4 separate regions of the Homo sapiens genome follow, and regions 1, 3 and 4 are each linked to region 2. Evidence: fine-mapped expression QTL. A gene starts in region 2. Each other region holds a variant in brackets. All regions are shown on one strand. Distances are between the middles of the regions. Region 1 overlaps TRAF3 (TNF receptor associated factor 3). Region 2 holds the start of TRAF3 (TNF receptor associated factor 3). Region 3 overlaps TRAF3 (TNF receptor associated factor 3). Region 4 overlaps TRAF3 (TNF receptor associated factor 3).

What was found.
Region 1: its variant is fine-mapped to the expression of TRAF3 in whole blood (TOPMed, PIP 0.92).
Region 3: its variant is fine-mapped to the expression of TRAF3 in whole blood (TOPMed, PIP above 0.99).
Region 4: its variant is fine-mapped to the expression of TRAF3 in whole blood (INTERVAL, PIP above 0.99).

Annotation. Positions count from the first base shown.
Region 1 is chr14:102,813,882-102,816,626 of GRCh38, forward strand. All of the region lies in intron 1 of TRAF3 (TNF receptor associated factor 3), which reads left to right. Among named protein-coding and RNA genes, the nearest start is that of TRAF3, 38 kb to the left of the region's middle. The variant A/G (reference allele first, on the strand shown) is at 1,122.
Region 2 is chr14:102,776,237-102,778,981 of GRCh38, forward strand. It overlaps TRAF3 (TNF receptor associated factor 3), which reads left to right and starts at 1,213. Exons shown (of 12, transcript NM_145725.3): 1 at 1,213-1,439. RefSeq lists an enhancer at 1-25 and silencers at 736-795, 886-1,495, 1,706-1,755, 1,996-2,055.
Region 3 is chr14:102,872,142-102,874,641 of GRCh38, forward strand. The region is part of intron 4 of TRAF3 (TNF receptor associated factor 3); the gene reads left to right. Among named protein-coding and RNA genes, the nearest start is that of AMN, 49 kb to the right of the region's middle. The variant G/A (reference allele first, on the strand shown) is at 1,448.
Region 4 is chr14:102,906,621-102,909,318 of GRCh38, forward strand. It overlaps TRAF3 (TNF receptor associated factor 3), which reads left to right. Exons shown (of 12, transcript NM_145725.3): 12 at 1-2,698. Among named protein-coding and RNA genes, the nearest start is that of AMN, 15 kb to the right of the region's middle. The variant C/T (reference allele first, on the strand shown) is at 1,485.

The sequences.
Region 1 (2,745 bases), 38 kb after region 2:
TTGTTTCCTTTGTTTTGCTGAAGCTTTTTAGCTTGATATAATCCCATTCATTTATGTTTGCTTTTGTTGTCCGTGCTTTTCAGTTACTCATCAAATCTTTTCCCAGACCAATGTGATGAAGCATTTCCCCTATGTTTTGTAGTAGTTTTATCATTTGGGTCTTATATTTAGGTCTTTGATTCATTTTTAGTTCATTTTTGTATAGGATGAGAGGTGGAGGTCTAGTTTCTATTTTCACTCTTCTGCATATGGATATTTAATTTTCACAGCACCATTTGTTGAAGAGACTGTCCTTTCCCCAATGAATGTTCTTGGCGCCTTTGTCAAAAATCAGTTGGCTGTAGATATGCAGGTTAATTCCTGGGTTTTCTATTCTTTTCCATTGGTCTGTGTATCTGTTTTTATAGACACATACCAGTTGTTTTATAGACCAGTACCGTGTCGTTTTGCTTACTACAGCTTTGTAGTATATTTTAAGGTTTGGTAGTGTGATACCTCCAGCTCTGTTCTTCTTGCTCAGCATTGCTTTGGCTATTTGGGGTCTTTTGCAGTTTCATACAAATTTTAGGATATTTTTTCTATTTCTGTGAACAATGTCATTGGTATTTTGATGGAGATTGCTCTTTTAATTATCTTGATTTCTTTTTTTCCCCCCCAAGACAGGGTCTCACTTCGTTATCTAGGCTGGAGTGCAGTGGCATGATACAGCTCAGTGCAGCCTTGACCTCCTGGACTTAGGTGATCCTCCCACCTCAGCCTCCTGAATAGCTGGGACTGCAGGCACATGCCACCACATCTGGCTAATTTTTTGTACTTTTTTTTGTAGAGACGGGGTTTTGCCATGTTGCCCAGGCTGGTCTCGAGCTCCTGAGCTCAAGCGGTCCACCCACCTCAGCCTCCCAAAGTGCTGGGATTACAGGCATACACCACTGCACCTGGCCTCTTTTCAATTTCTTGATGGTGTTCTTTGATGTACAAAAGTTTTTAACTTTAAATGAAGTCCAGTTTATCTACTTTTTCTTTGGCTTATTGTGCTTTTGGTATCCTTTTCTTTTCTTTTCTTTCTTTTTCTGAGACAGAATCTCGCACTGTTGGCCAGGCTGTAGTGCAGTGGCACAATC[A/G]TGGCTCACTGTAGCCTCGACCTCTAGAGCTCAAGGGAGCCTACTGCCTTAGCCTCCTGAGTAGCTAGGGCTACAGGCGGTACCATTATGCCTGGTTAATTTTTTAAATTATTTTTTGTAGAGACAGAGTTTTACTATGTTGCCCGGGCTGGTCTCAAACTGCTGGGCTCAAGCAGTTCTCCTGCTTCAGCCTCCTAAAGTGTTGGGATTACAGATGTGAGCCACTGTTCCTGGCTTGGAGTCATTTCTAAGAAACCATTGCCTAATCCAAGGTCGTGAAGATTTACATCTTTCTTCTAAGAATTATATAGTTTTAGTTCTTTTCTGCTGTGATCATGTGTGTATGTGTTGGTTTTTTATTTTTATTTTTTTGAGACTGGGTCTTGCTGTATTGCCAGGCTGGAGTGCAGTGCTTATCCATAGCCATGATCATAGTGTACTGCAGCCTTGAACACTTGGGCTCAAGTGATCTTTCTGCCTTAGCTTCCCAGGTAGTTAGGACTACAGTGCATACCACTGTGCCTGGCTTATTGTGTGATCTATTTTGAGTCAATTTTTGTGGTGTGAGATAGGGGTCCAGTTTCATTCTTTTACATGTGTATATTTACATTTTGTAGTTCATTTGTTGAAGGGACTACTTGTATTAGTCTGTTCTCATACTGCTATAAAGAAATTCCCCAGACTGGGTAGTTTTTAAAGGAAAGAGGTTTAATTGATTCACAGTTCTACATGTCTGGGGAGGCCTCAGGAAACTTACAATCAAGGCAGACGGGGAAGCAGGCACGTCTTACATGGCAGCAGGCAAGAAGGAGCGTGTGTGAGTGCAGGAAAAACTACCATTTATAAAACCATCAGATCTGGTGATAATTCACTCACTGTCATGAGAACAGCCTGGGGACACCACCACTATAATCCAATCACTTCCTTCCCTTGACACATGGGGATTACAATTCGAGATGAGATTTGGGTGGACACAGAGCCAAACCGTATTACTATTCTTTCTCCATTGAATGGTCTTGGTGCCCTTATCAAAAATGTATTTTCCATAAAAAAACACCAATTGACCATAAATATAAGGGCTTATTTCTGGACTCTAAATTCTATTTTTTTTTTTTTAAGAAACAGGGTCTCACTCTGTTGCCCAGGCAGGAGTGTAGTGATGCCATCTCAGTTCTCTTCAACCTCCGCCTCCTGGGCTCAGGTGATCCTCTCACCTCAGCCCCCCAAGTAGCTGGGACTACGAGCACATGCCACCACCCTCGCCTAATTTTTGTATTTTTTGTAGAGATGGGGTTTTACCATGTTGGCCAGGCTGGTCTCGAACTCCTGAGCTCAAGCAGTCCACCCTCCTCAGCCTCCCAAAGTGCTACGATTACATGCATTAGCTACCATACACCGATTGTACAGGCCACAGGCTAGCCCCACACACCAGATTTTGAAGATTAAGTGTGGTTTAAAAAAATGCAAAATATCCTGTTAATAATTTTTGATAATATTACATGTTGAAATGATAAAGTTTAATGTTGTGTTAAATAATACACAGTAAATTTTACTGACTTCTTTTTACTCTTTAATTGTAGCTGCTAGGAGATTTAAAATTATTTTTGTGATTCTCGTATTTCTG
Region 2 (2,745 bases):
GAGATGCTGGACTTCCTGCCTCCACTCACATGAGTCACTGGAGCAATACAAGAAGGCAGACTGGCCTTGGCTACTCACACTGGTCTCAGCTCTGGGGTAGGGCTCTTTATAAGCCTTCTTGAGAAGTGAAAAATGCAAAGTCCTTTCTGTCCCCTCACCACTGACTTGCAAACTCCAGCGAAGGCCTCACCCCTCAGCTGGCCCAGAGCCTCCCAGAAGCCCTCCCTTCGCTTCCCACCTCGCCAGGCCCAGCCAGGCTGGGTGCTGCCTTGGTGGGCCTAGGTGAATCACTGACACACCACTGATGCCTTTGGGGCAGAAGGCAGAGGCCTCGGGAGAAATGCGCAGGCCCCAGCGGCCTGGTGGAGGGTGCAGGGGGCGCAGGGGCAGCCAGGACCGCCGAGGACGCTGGGGGCACGTGGCAAACTGGCTACCCTGTCCACCCGTGAGCAAGACACCACTCCGGGGGCGTGGGAGGGTCCAAGGGAGGGAGAAAGGAAAGTGCCACCAAACTAATGTGGAGCCCTGCCCTCTGCATGCGAAAAGGGGCTCCACGGCCTGAGTCACCCTCAGCCCCACCTGCGTGTGCGCGAGGGTGCGTGGCCTGGTACGCGTGCGCACGGTGTTGGTGAGCGTGTGTGTGCGTGTCCGCTTGAGGGGAATGTGACCGTCGTGTATGCGTCCGCGACAGTGCGGGGGGCCGCATATCGGACCCGTGCGTGTGCGTAGGGGTCGCGTGTGGCCATGGGCACACGGGCGTGCACGCACGGGGGCTGCGTATGCTATGCTGGCGTGGGGGGTGCGGGCGAGGTGGCCGCGGGGAGGAGCGGCGCCAGCACCTCTCGGCCCCCACGCGGCCTGCGTGGCTTTTTGACCCGGAAAGGCGGGGACGCGGGGACGCGCGGCGGCGGGGGCGCGGCGGGGGCGGCGCAGAGCGAGGAGGCCCGCGGGGCGCGCGGCGGGGACGGGAGGGAGGCGGGGGGCGCCCGGGGCCGTCCCCGCCCCGCGCCGCGGCGCCGCCGTTGCTAAGGCCGGGCGGGCGGCCGCCGGGCGCTAGGGCCCTTAGCAACGGGTCGCGGGCGCGCGCGGGGGGCCGGCGGGCGCGTGGGGCCGGCGGCGCTCGCGGGCTCCTGCCGCTCCCACGCGCGCGGGCGGCGGGGGCGGGGCGGCGGGCGCGCCGGGGATTTCCAGCGCGCGAGAGGAAGTGCCTGCGCGGGGCTGCGTGAGGGAGCGAGGGAGCGAGGGAGCGCGGCGCGGCCGCCGCGTGCGCGAGCCGGGGTTGCAGCCCAGCCGGGACTTTCCAGCCGGCGGCAGCCGCGGCGGCCGCCGGCTCTTCCCCGCCCCCCGCCATGGGGCAGCCCGGGGAGCAGAACGCTGCGGACCGCGGCGGAGGACGCGCCCGGCGCCCCTGAGCCGGCCGAGCGGCGACGGACCGCGAGGTAAGGGGCCGCGGCGGGCGGGCGGGCCTCCGGCGCGCGGCCGGGCGCCTCCATCCCCGTCGCCTCCATCCCGCGCCCTGGGCGGCGGGGCCCGGGGGCCTCGGGGCTGCCCGGCGCGGGCCCGGCGCGGCGCAGGCCCGGCCCGTCCCAGCGGCGACGGCGGGGCGCGGCTTCAGCCTGGCCCCGCGCCCCAGCCGGGCTGCCTCCCGCCTCCGGACGCCTCAACTTCGGCAAACTTTGTCCCGGAGGCCGGGCTCGGGGCCCGAGGGGGCCGGGGCGCCCGCACCTTTTCAGGAAACGGGGCGCGCAGGCCTCGCTACGGCCGTGACCCCCGCTGGCGTTGAGGACCCGGCACCCCGCGGGGCCGCGGGTTTCACGCGGGGGGACGGGCGGCTCAGGGGCTGCGTGGCCGAGCGCGCTGCCCGGGCCGGCCGGGGGGGCCCGGGCGTTATTGGAAAGTTGGTCCTGAGTCATTCCGCCTCAGAGGCGCCTCCGACCGCTTGGCGGGCGGCGCGGGGGTCCGGGTATGGGCAGAGGGCGCGAATCCCCCTCGCGCGGCCGCCGAGGGCCGGCGACTCCCGGGGCACCGGGCGGCTCCTGGCCGCGGGCTCTGCGTCTTCCCCGCGGGCGCCAGGCGGCTCTCGGCGGGCTGGCCGGTTCCACGCCGCCAGCCAGCCCCGTGTGGGGACTTCGGTCTAGTATTTGGACCCGAGGAGATAATTCTGTGTGGAAAATTCTCTCCCTTCGGTTGGAAACAGTAACAAACTGGAAACGGATGAGGTGTTATGGACGTGCTTGGAAATGCAAGAAACCTTCAGATTACGAGCTGTTGACGGGACCAGTTGTATTTCACGTTTTTCGAATTAAGCTCAGAATCAGTTTTCAGAATGACATGTGATGCGTGGTGCGTGGTGTGTGTGCCTGTGTGTGTGTATGGATATAATTCATTCATTTTTGTGGCGTCAGAAAGGTTATGTCGAGCGTTGTAGCGGCTTCTTAATTTACATTCACGGCATACAACTGAAGAGGAGCCATTATTTATTTTTTTTCCTAGCATTTGCTGCGACTACACACTGCCGGAGCGTTTGGAAATGTTGTTTGCTGTTACCCTGTATTTGTCTATAAAATTCTTACTGTAGGGAATGGCCAAGTGGACCATCAGTTCGTCCTGAGATCTTCTCATGTCTCTCACGTCTTTGAAAATGGCCTGTGAACAGACTGCATCATATGTAGGATGTCTGGCAAAATAGTGTACAGCGTTCTTTTCTCAAATGAGAGGAAATGTGTACCTTTTCGCCGCGTTGTG
Region 3 (2,500 bases), 96 kb after region 2:
TCAGATCCACTTGGCCACTTCCCTACTGTGTGAACTCTGTGAGCTACTTCACCCCCTCACCTGTAATAATCATATCACCTGCTAAGACCGCAGGGAGCTGGTGTGAGGAGTAAGGGGTTGATGTGAGCAAAGTGCTGAGATGCCTGTCTGTGGCAGGGCTGTCTGTGGTTGGGTCACTTCCGTCATTGCAGGTCTTTATCCCAGACAGCTTCTACTCAACTCTTACACTAGGTTTTACCTTCAGACTCGCTAGGCTGAGGGGTTCATTTGAGTTTGTGCTCCCTGCCCCCCAGGCCCCCTGTGATATCTTTAAGTCATTAGACATGAGTGAGATTAGCCCCTTCTCGCCCCCTGTGGCTGTCCTCAGCTAGAGCCCGTGGGCGTCTCTGCACATTCAGAGGATGGGGCTGCCCAGCCTGCCACCAGCTTCTCTCCTGGGGCCTGGTCCTTCTCATGGAGACTGACAGTCATCCATGTGCTGCTGTACCCTGCCAGGTATACTTGGAGTTTGAAACAATTCTTTTCTTTTCTTTCTCTCTCCTTTCTTTCTTCTTTTTCTTTTTTTTTTGCGACAGAGTTCACTCTTGTTGCACAGGCTGGAGCACAATGGCACGATCTTGGCTCGCTGCAGCCTCCACCTCCCAGGTTCAAGCAATTCTCATGCCGCAGCCTCCCGAGTAGCTGGGATTACAGGCACGAGCCACCACGCCCAGCTAATTTTTGTATTTTTAGTAGAGACGGGGTTTCACCGTGTTGGTTAGGCCAGTCTCGAACTCCTGACCTCAGGTGATCCACCTGCCTCGGCCTCCCAAAGTGCTGGGATTACAGGCATGAGCCACCGCACCCAGCAATTCATTCTTAAAGTGCTTAAAATATCAATAAAAATGTGTGTTTCCCTACTTTGAGTAATATACCTAACCATTTTTTAAATGCAGGTCACTAAGTTGTACAATAAAATTCTTACTCTGGGGTTTTCCTGTCTAAAGCACCTTGCAGATTGGGTTTGTTGGTCAGAGCAGCCCAGGTGAGTGCAGTGATTTGAGGATTGCTGGTAGTCAGTGTCCCTGGGCTGCCAGGCACACAGGCATCCAGTATAGCCGCTCTGGAAGGGGGAGAGATGGAATTGGCCACCTGGCCCTGTACCTTTTCTTTCTCTGCATTTACCTGCTGCTGCTGCAGGCTTGGTTAGTTCCTTGAGTGAAAACAGCCCCTCCCCTCCACTCTGTGCCTTGGCCTAGCATGGTACTCGGCCGCCTTGTTAACATGTGCCTAACGTGTGAGTGAGAGAGAAGCTCGCGACGATGGCTGAGATGTTTTTTTAGTATCTCTGTTTTGTTATGCAGAATCATTATCCCTATTTTTTAATGACATAAGTAGCTGAAGAAAAATGGCTAGTTTTATCAAAGAATCATGAACGAGATGCACTCAAGTTGTGGACCCTCATGGA[G/A]AGAATGGAGCTGTCTGGGCCCCGGGTGACCCGGATCCTCACCCGTCAGCAGGTCATCCAGGGGTGGGCGGGCCTCTGGTCTTCATCTGTAAACAGAGACATTTTGAGTAAATAGTCTCAGATCCTTTCCATTCCAAAGTTCTGTTGACTTTAGTATCTCAAGTCATGACCTTCTTTTTTTTTTAGTCATGTTTATGAAAGATAAGCTTTGGCTCCAAATTAGTTTATTTTTAACTCTTAACAGCTGTTGATTTTATTTCTCTCAGCAGTCCAAAAAGGCACATTAAGCTCCTGTTATTCCACTTTCATAGAGCAACAGGCAGGAGTTTCTTAGAAATAACCTTTGGACTAAGATGTTGTAGATCGTGTTGTTAGAAAGAGTGAGAGGGAGCTGGGCATGGTGCCTTATGCCTGGGATCCCAGGACTTTGGGAGGCTGAGGCAGGTGGATCACTTGGGCTCAGGAGTTCGAGACCAGAGTGGGCAGCATATGGAGACCCCATCTCTACAAAAATGAAAATTAAAAAGTTACCTGGGCTTGGAGGCATGCGCCTGTAGTTCAAGCCACTCAGGAGGCTGAGGTGAGAGGATCGCTTGAGCCCAGGAGTTTAAGGGTGTAGTGAAGCCATGATTGCACCAGTGCGCTCCAGCCTGGGTGACAGAGTGAAACCCACCCTGTCTCTTTTTGAGACAGAGTCTCACTCTCTTGCCCAGGCTGGAGTACAATGGCGTGATCTCAGCTCACTGCAACCTCCTCCTCCCGGGTTCAAGCGATTCCCCTGCCTCAGCCTCCCGAGTAGCTGGGACTACAGGCATGTGCCACCACACCCGGTTAATTTTTTTGTATTTCTAGTAGAGATGGGGTTTCACCGTGTTGGCCAGGCTGGTCTCAAACTCCTGACCTCAGGTGATCCACCCACCTCGGCCTCCCAAAGTGCTGGGATTACAGAGGTGAGTCACTGTTCCCAGTCAACCCTGTCTCTTAAAAAAAGAGTGAGAATGAGAATACTTGTGTTTTCTAAGGGAAAAATAAAATTAAAAGTTGAAAGGTTTT
Region 4 (2,698 bases), 130 kb after region 2:
GCATCATTTTCAGATTTATAATTGTTTTCACCCTAAAATAGGGCATCCGTTGAACTTTGGAGTTCTAAACAAAATCCTGTAGGTGTTTGGATTCTGCCCCATGTGTTCGGACGAGCTCTCTGTTGCTGACAGCACCGGCCTTCGGTCTCCATGTCAGGGGTGGGCGGGTGACTGCTGAGGGAGGCCCGCAGGTGTGTTTCTCCATCCCGTCATCTTGCTGCATGCCGTCAACGGTCTCCGAAAGCAACGTTGTGCGTAGAGCTGGTGGCATACGGCCCACGTGCCTTAGATGGGACATGCTGCTTCTCCACCCTGGGTTTGCATTGAGCATCATTCTAGAAAGTGCTAGTTTAACCAGACTTTTCTCTCCACCACTAGATCTTTGTCTCTACAAGGGCCCTCAGACACCTCTGCACCTGCTGAGGGGAAGCCAGGCTCCACCGTCGGCTTCTGGAGCCTCCGCTGCTTAATTACCACAGATTCCAAATCTCTAGGCCCCACGAGTGAGCCGCCTGGTCCAAGTACGGCCTGGTCCCACCCTGAGGGAGGCAGGTGTGGAACAGAAGCCGAGCCTCTCCGTGTCCCCACCGGGGCCGTGGGCACCCCCACAGCCCGAAGCAGAACCCTCTGAGCATTCCAGAGACCGCTGCTCGGGGGCCTGCCCAGGCTGACCAACGGGCGCTCCTGACCACCACCCTGGCGGGAAGGGTGGCCACGGGGCCCGTCGTCCCAGCCTGTGCCTGCCCAGATGGCATTTTCTCAACTCACTGTTTACTGTCTCTCAGTGTCCAACTGTGATTAGAAGCCTGGAGCCTGCCCCCTGCACCCCTTTTGCTATGCACCACGCTTCATGGTGCTCTTACCACTGATGGGTGCTACACGCGACGGGTGCTTCTTAGGCAAAACCAATGTGTGCGAACTGTCACACCTGTGCCACTCGCCCACAAGCCGCGCCCACAATTGGCCAGCTGGGCCGTGCACGTCAGACTGCCTGCCTCGGCTCTCCCCGTGGCCGCGCGGGGACAGCTTGGTGGGTGCCCGGTGGCCCACCTGTCTCTGGTGCTGCCATCTGTCCTGGGTGTGCCTTCGCCCCAGTGCCTGCTGGAAGTGCCCTCCGTCGCACCCCTGTGCCCTGAGCTCCCGTGAGGGGCCCGCCGCGCCCTTTCGCGGTCGAAGCGTTCCGTTGTTCTTATCTGCCTTTCCTTTCCCCGCTCTCCTGGGATTACTTTGGGGGAATGAGTATCCTTGGTTCTGCCCTGTGAGGGAGTCGTGTGTCCCTGCTCATAAAGGAAGGACTTCCTGCAGAAGCTGCGGAAAACTACTGTTCCCTCGAAGGTGTCCCCCACCTGAGGCCTGTCCCCTACCTGCCCTCAGGTAGTTTTCCTGAGGCCAGGGGTTAACAACAGGGACATCCCTGCAACTTCCCCTTCACAAAATGTATAATATTAGATGAAGGATATGCAACATCTTGGTCTAGTAAGAAC[C/T]GTTTCCTCCCCTCTGGGTTGAAGTCCTGGTGTGGCCCCCAGAAGCAGCAGTGCGTGTCACTGGGACGTCTCCAGTAGCCCTTCCCAGGCAGACGCTCCTGGCGGGACGCCATGGGGCCCACCTGAGGGTCCCACAGACGTAACCTGAGTGACAGGAGTCCTTGAGGATGGGATGGCCTATGTCACACACTTTGTCCTTGAACCTGAGTGATGGGGGTCCTTGAGGATGGGATGGCCTGTGTCACGCGCTTTGTCTTTGTGTTTGGTTGTATCGGGGTCTCTGTTCTGAGTGTGTCTTCCTCTCATGTACTCAACACAGTGGGCAGCAGCCTGGGACGGCGTCCCCTCTCCCGGCGGCGGGCAAGCCTTGCGCTGCTCCACCCTCGGCCTGGGCACCCTCACTTGGCGCTGGCCACCTGGGCCAGCCTGGGGCCATGGTCTCTCTGCAGCTGAGGCCCAGTGGCCCCTTGGGCAGTGATCGGCCCTCCCCGCATCACAGGGCCCTGGCAGCAAGCGGGAAATGGGGGCGCACACTGTGTGCTTGGGGGTGCTGCTTGTTTACCACACATGACCAGACTCCCAGCAGGACAGAGCTGCTCAGTACTTTACAGAAACCAACTGAGTCGTTTGTGCATGAATTAAGCCGGTCTGCTTCCCCGTCACCTTCGTAACAAAACAACGTCCCCTCTCCCCTCGCCTCGAGCAGTTTCTTCAGGACACCGTGGCTCGGGCTGCTCCCTGCTGCCAGGCACGCTGGTTGGCTGGCCTGGGCCCGGCTCACGTGAAGGGCACTGGCTCTTGTGACCACACTGAGCCACGTGCAAGCCGCAGCCGGGCCTGGAAGCCTGACCCTCTGGTTCTAGGGCTTGTCCCGCGGAGCCTGCAGAGCTAGACGTTGGGGTGTGTCCGTGATGATATGGGGGCCAGGCTGGGAGTAGGGCCTTTCTAGCAGGGTTGGGTGGCTCAGTGAGGGTGTGGAAGTGGGGGACCCACGGGGCCTGGCTTTGGGACTAGACATGCCAGCCCCAGCTGGGCTGGAGGGAGCCTGAGTGAGCCCCGACATACGCTGGGCCTTTCAGCTCGCCGTGCTCTGGTGACACACAGGCGGCCAGGTTGGGATTTGTGTCAATTCTAGGAGCCATCAAGCATGAATGTGGTTCTGTCTCCTGAGCGCAAGCCTCGCCGGACCCCTGGGCGAAGGCCTGGACTTGCAG